Regions from separate parts of the Homo sapiens genome. Here region 1 is linked to region 2. A link means that fine-mapping ties the variant in region 2 to the plasma level of a protein whose gene starts in the linked region. Region 2 holds a variant in brackets. A gene starts in the other region. All regions are shown on their forward strands.

The links. PIP is the posterior inclusion probability: the model's chance that the variant is causal. Protein levels are from antibody-based Olink assays in UK Biobank. Linkage for the fine-mapping came from a reference panel and not from the study's own genotypes, which makes the PIPs less certain.
Region 1: it holds the start of KLRF1, and the variant in region 2 is fine-mapped to the plasma level of the KLRF1 protein (UK Biobank, PIP above 0.99).

Annotation. Positions count from the first base shown.
Region 1 is chr12:9,826,259-9,829,183 of GRCh38, forward strand. It overlaps KLRF1 (killer cell lectin like receptor F1), which reads left to right and starts at 1,223. Exons shown (of 6, transcript NM_016523.3): 1 at 1,223-1,371. The coding sequence starts at 1,287.
Region 2 is chr1:24,748,566-24,751,490 of GRCh38, forward strand. The region is part of intron 1 of CLIC4 (chloride intracellular channel 4); the gene reads left to right. Among named protein-coding and RNA genes, the nearest start is that of CLIC4, 4.6 kb to the left of the region's middle. RefSeq lists a silencer at 915-994. The variant C/T (reference allele first, on the strand shown) is at 1,003.

The sequences.
Region 1 (2,925 bases), not on the chromosome of region 2:
TTCCCTCTTCCCACCCTCTATCCTCCAGTAGGCACTAATCATTAGGGAAATGCAAATTAAAACCACAGTAAGATACCATCTCATACCAGTCGAATGGCTATTATTAAAAAGTCAAAAAATAACAGATGCTGATGAGGTAGTGGAGAAAAGGGTTCACTTATACACCTTTGATGGGAGTGTAAATTAGTTCAACCATTATGAAAGATAGCATGGTGATTCCTTAAAGACCTAAAACCAGAAATTTGACCCAGCAATCCCATTACTGGTATATACCCAAAGGAATATAAATCTATCATAAAGACACATGCATGCATCTGTTCATGGCAGCACTGTTGACAATAGCAAAGACATGCAATCAACCTAAATGCCCATCAATGGTAGACTGGATAAAGAAAATGTGATACACATATACAAAGGAATACTATGCAGCTATAAAAAAGAATGAGATGATGTCCATTGCAGGAACATAGATGAAGCTAGAGGCCGTTACCCTTAACAAACTAATGGAGGAACAGAAAACCAAATACCACATGTTCTCACTAATAATTGGGATCTAAATGATGAGAACACATGTACACATAGAGGAGAATGACAGACACCGGAGCCTACTTGAAGGTGGAGGGTGAGAGGAGGGGCAGGATCAGAAAAACATAACTATGTAGTACTAGTCTGAATACCTGGGTGATGAAATAATATGTACAACAAACCCCTGTGACATGATTTTACCTATATAACAAACCTACACATGTAGCCCTGAACCTAAAAGTTAAAAAAAATCAAATTATACTGTTAAATTATTAGCATGATTTATAAACAATATTGTTTTAGGATAAAGAATTTAATTGCTTGGCAATTGCAAATTATTAAATTAAATATCAATATGTTAGGGAGGCTAATTCAAATGATATAAATATTTAGGCTATAACAAAAGGCAGCTATATATTATTAACCTCACCTCAAAAAGGGGCATAATTTCCATTCCCTTGACTTTAAGGGTAAATTAAGAGAAATTTGTAAAGCACTCAAAAGAATATTCAATTCAATATGTGGTGGACAGTTGAGAAATTATGTGTTATCTATGTCATGGGAAAGCAACTTTTAAAAAGAAAACATTTCCTCTGAGGTTTTCACAAATAAGTGAAACTGTGAACCCTCATATGTACTGTGAAAGGACAATTTGAGGAGCATCTCTGATTAGCAGCAGATTTATTATTCTTTCCTCATTTCATGTTATACTTAATAAAACAAAACATACCTGTATACACACACATTCACTCACATTGAAGATGCAAGATGAAGAAAGATACATGACATTGAATGTACAGTCAAAGAAAAGGAGTTCTGCCCAAACATCTCAACTTACATTTAAAGGTATGGAATTTAATTTCATTTTTTCAATTGGTGTGAATTAACATGGTAGTTTCCCGTATCCTGTTCCATTGTGTTATTGGACTGTTTCAGTATTTGGGTGCTTTTCTTTCTCCGTCTCTGTATCTCTCTCACCTGTCCTCTCTTTCAATATTAATAATGATTTAAAAATAACAACCTCTCTTACCATTTAAGAAACACCAGTTTCCGGCACTATACAGAATGTTTTATCTATGTTCCTTCATTTAATCTTACAAATTTACTATGAGATAATCTCTCTCTCTCCCATTTATCAATGTGGAACTAACACTTACTTGTAATATTTTGTCTGATATAATTTCTTAAGGACATTCTCTGAGGAAATATGCATACTCAATTAAAATTAATAATTTCAAATTAGTGAATATTTGCTGCCATTCACCTCCTTATCATTCATAGAATATGGTGTTTTAATGCTATTTTTTTTTTTTGAGACGGAGTTTCACTGTTGTTGCCCAGGCTGGAGTGCAATGGCATGATCTCGGCTCACTGCAACCTCTGCCTCCCAGGTTCAAGCAATTCTCCTGCCTCAGCCTCCTGAGTAGCTGAGATTATAGGTGCCCGCCACCATGCCTGGCTAATTTTTTGCGTTTTTAGTAGAGATGGGGTTTTACCATGTTGGCCAGGCTGGTCTTGAACTCCTGACCTCAGGTGATCCACCCACCTGAGTCTTCCAAAGTGTTGGGATTATAGGCATGAGCCACCGCGCCCAGCCTTTAATACTAATTTTTAATTCAACTTCTCAAAAACTTTATGCTTTTCACCAAGTTGACTCAAAATAAAGTTTATACACCAGCAATCAACATTTTAATTTGCTACTTCAAGCATACCCTCCATACACAATGCAATTCCATCATGCCACCTTAATGTGATTTGGCAAAAGAGATAAGCAGAAATTAAAGACACAAATAATCACAGTTATAGAGACTGTCTGTTCTGTTCTGTTGCTTTCTAAATATTTCTCTTTTAATAACTTCACCCATGAAAATTTTACTTATCTCTTGAGTCCTTCCACAAGTATCATCCATCAGTGATTCATCTTAGAGTTACATACGTGCTATGTATAAGAAATTTATTGCCTCTTCCATGTGAATTTTTAGATTCCCATATTTTCAAGTCTTTACTTCCTACACTCAATTTTTATTTCATTTTTGGAAATTAGAGATATTAAACCTGAAAGACTACAACATGTAGTGACTTCTCTGCAGACTTTTTTCCACACTCTGTTCATAAATGTCTCTCTGAAGCAAAAATGTGCAGATTTTCGGCTCCCAGATATTTAAGTGACACATACTAATATTTATGTCTTGTACCTTTAGCTAATATTTATTAAAGCTTGAGGTAAGACGTATTTTATGTGAATTAGATTGACAATGTGAGCCTTGGGGTTATGATGTTCATTCATTTAACTTAATTTTGTGATGACATATTTGTAAATCTTTTCTCATATATTGAAAAACCTTTGTTGCCAGTGATAGTAAGAAATTACATAATTGCTCTATCCCACTATACATATGT
Region 2 (2,925 bases):
AGTGGCGCGATCTCGGCTCACTGCACCCTCTGCCTCCCAGGTTGAAGTGATTCTTCTGCCTTTGCCTTCCGAGGAGCGCATGCACCACTACGCCTGGCTGATTTTTGTATTTTAGAAGAGACTGGGTTTTACCATGTTGGCCAGGCTGGTCTCAAACTCCTGACCTTAAGTGATCTGCCTGCCTTGGCCTCCCAAAGTGCTGGGATTACAGGCTTGAGCCTCTGTGCTTGGCCCCTAGACCAGTTTGTTTGAAAGGGGAAAAAAGGACAGGTAAAATGTGGTAAAGGGCATTCTTGATCTCTTCTCAAAACCTACGTGTGGGAAATGCAAATGGGGGAAATACCCTTGTAAATATAGTTATTTTGAAAGCAGTGGACCAGGTGTGGTGGCACACTCCTGTAATCCCAGCCTTTTGGGAGGCGGAGGGGGGTGGATCACTTGATGTTGAGACCAGCCTGGGCAACATGGCGAAACCGCATTTCTACTAAAAATACAAAAATTAGCCACGCATAGTGGTGCATGGCTGTAATCCCAGCTACTCGGGAGACTGAGGCAGGAGAATTGCTTGAACCTGGGAGGCGGTGGTTGCAGTGAGCCGAGATAGTGCCACTGCACCCCAGCCTGGGTGACAGAGCAAGACTCCATCTCAAAAAATAAAAATTAAAAAAAAAAAAAAGAAAGTAGAGAGGGTGCAGAGGCTGTGGTTGTCCAGAGTGGTATGTTGAACAGTGTTAACCTGCCAAGAGGTATCTGAGTTTGTAAAAGAAAACTATTTACAGTTGAAGCACATAGCATGTATGGAAATTAGAAATTTGGTGGTGGCGCTAGGGGAAAGGCCAAGAGATGTAATGGGGCTTTGAGCCTACCTGTCTAGCTAGCACTGAGCTTCACATTTAAGAGAGAGAGATGAGCACCTTCTCAAATAGTATGACTGAACTCACAGCTGCATTTCCTTCCTTGTGAGTAGTTTTTGGAGTTGTCTGCCTGTGAGCCCATTAACTC[C/T]CTGTCATCTATATAACAGCAGGATGGTTTTTTTGGTTTGTTTTTGTTTTGTTTTACCCTCAACATCTGGAGGATAGATAGGATGCCCTCTCAAAAGTAAAAAAGGCAGCTGGGCTGTGGTGGCTCACGCCTGTAATCCTAGCACTGTAGGAGGCCAAGGAGGATGAATCTTTTGAGCGCAGGAGTTCTAGACCAGCCTGGGCAACATGGCGAGACCCTGTCTCTACAAAAACTATTAAAAAAATTGCCAGGCACAGTGGCTCACGCCTGTAATCCCAGTACTTTGGGAGGCTGAGGCAGGCGGATCTCTTGAGCCTAGGAGTTCGAGACCAGCCTGGGCAACGTAGCAAAACCCCATCTCTACAAAAAATATAAAAAATTAGCTGGGTGTGGTGATACATGCCTGTGGTCCCAGCTGAGGTGGGAGGATTCCTTTAGCCTGGGAGGCAGAGGTTGGCTGTGAGCCGTGATCGTGCCACTGCACTCCAGCTTGGGTGAGACCCTATCTCTAAATAAATAAGTAAGTAACTAAGCTGGGCCTGGTGGCCCACGCCTGCAGCCCTAGCCCTAGAGGCTGCGGGTGGGAGGATTGTTTGAGCCCAGGAGTTCGAGGCTGCAGTGAGCTTATGATCATGTACCTGCACTCCAATCTGGGTGACAGAACAAGACCCTGTCTCGGGAGGAAAACAACAAAGGCTTATAATGGCAATCATCCTCAACAGTGGAGATGCTCTCTACCCCACTCAGGAGCCTGGTAGGTGTATATATTTCCAGCTGGGAACCACCAACAGATACGGTATATTTGAGACCTTTTAGCAAGGGCATAAGGTCCCTTGTAATCTGGGTTTCTTTCTTTCTTTCTTTCTTTCTTTTTTTTTTTTTTTTTAAGACGGAGTTTCGCTCTTGTTACCCCTCAGCCTCCCGAGTGGCTGGGACTACAGGTGTGCACCACCACACCTGGCTAATTTTGTATTTTTAGTAGAGACAAGGTTTCTCCATGTTGGTCAGGCTTGTCTCGAACTCCTGACCTCAGGTGATCAGCCTGCCTTGGCCTCCAAAAGTGCTGGGATTACAGGCGTGAGCCACCGAGCCTGGCCTACTGCCTGAGTTTCTAATCCAATATGTCCAGTTACTAATTGTGTATCCCAGGATACATCACTTAAACCTGTCTGTGCCACATCTGCACAGTTGGGATATTAGTAGAACAGTCCTATGGGATAAATTAATATATGTAGTATGCAACAATCTTAGAACAATGTCTAGTACACAGTAAGCAAATAAATGCTAGTTGTGTATAATTTTGTATGAATATATATTTATAGGCAGATCTCCCCTACTAGATAGACAGTAAATTCCTTGAGGATAGGGTGTGCATATGGTTCAGAGTGCCTGCAACTTAAGAGGATGCCAAATGTTTGAAATGAGATTGTGCCCTTCTTTCAGAGAATTCTGTTGTTGAGCATTTTGTTGTCAATGTATGTCTCTACCATGCTTTGGAATTAGAAACCACTTACTGAGATCCCGATGGTTGGAGCATCAAAGCATGGTTCTTCATCCTGATTTCTCTAGCCTCCAGTCTCCAAACCCAGTGTAATTTTATGTACTCACCTCTTTTTTTTCTCCATTTAATACTTCCAGTCTTTTTTTTTTTTTTTTTTTTGAGATGGAGTCTTGCACTGTTACCCGGGCTGGAGTGCAGTGGCACGATCTTGGCTCACTGCAACCTCTGTCTCCCGAGTTCAAGCGATTCTCCTGCCGCAGACTCCCGAGTAGCTGGGGTTACAGGCACCCGCCACCATGGCCAGCTAATTTTTTGTATTTTTAGTAGAGATGAGGAGCTAATTTGTATTTGTAGTAGAGACGGGGTTTCACTATGTTGGCCAGGCTGGTCTTGAACTCCTGACCTAGTGATCCACCCGCTCG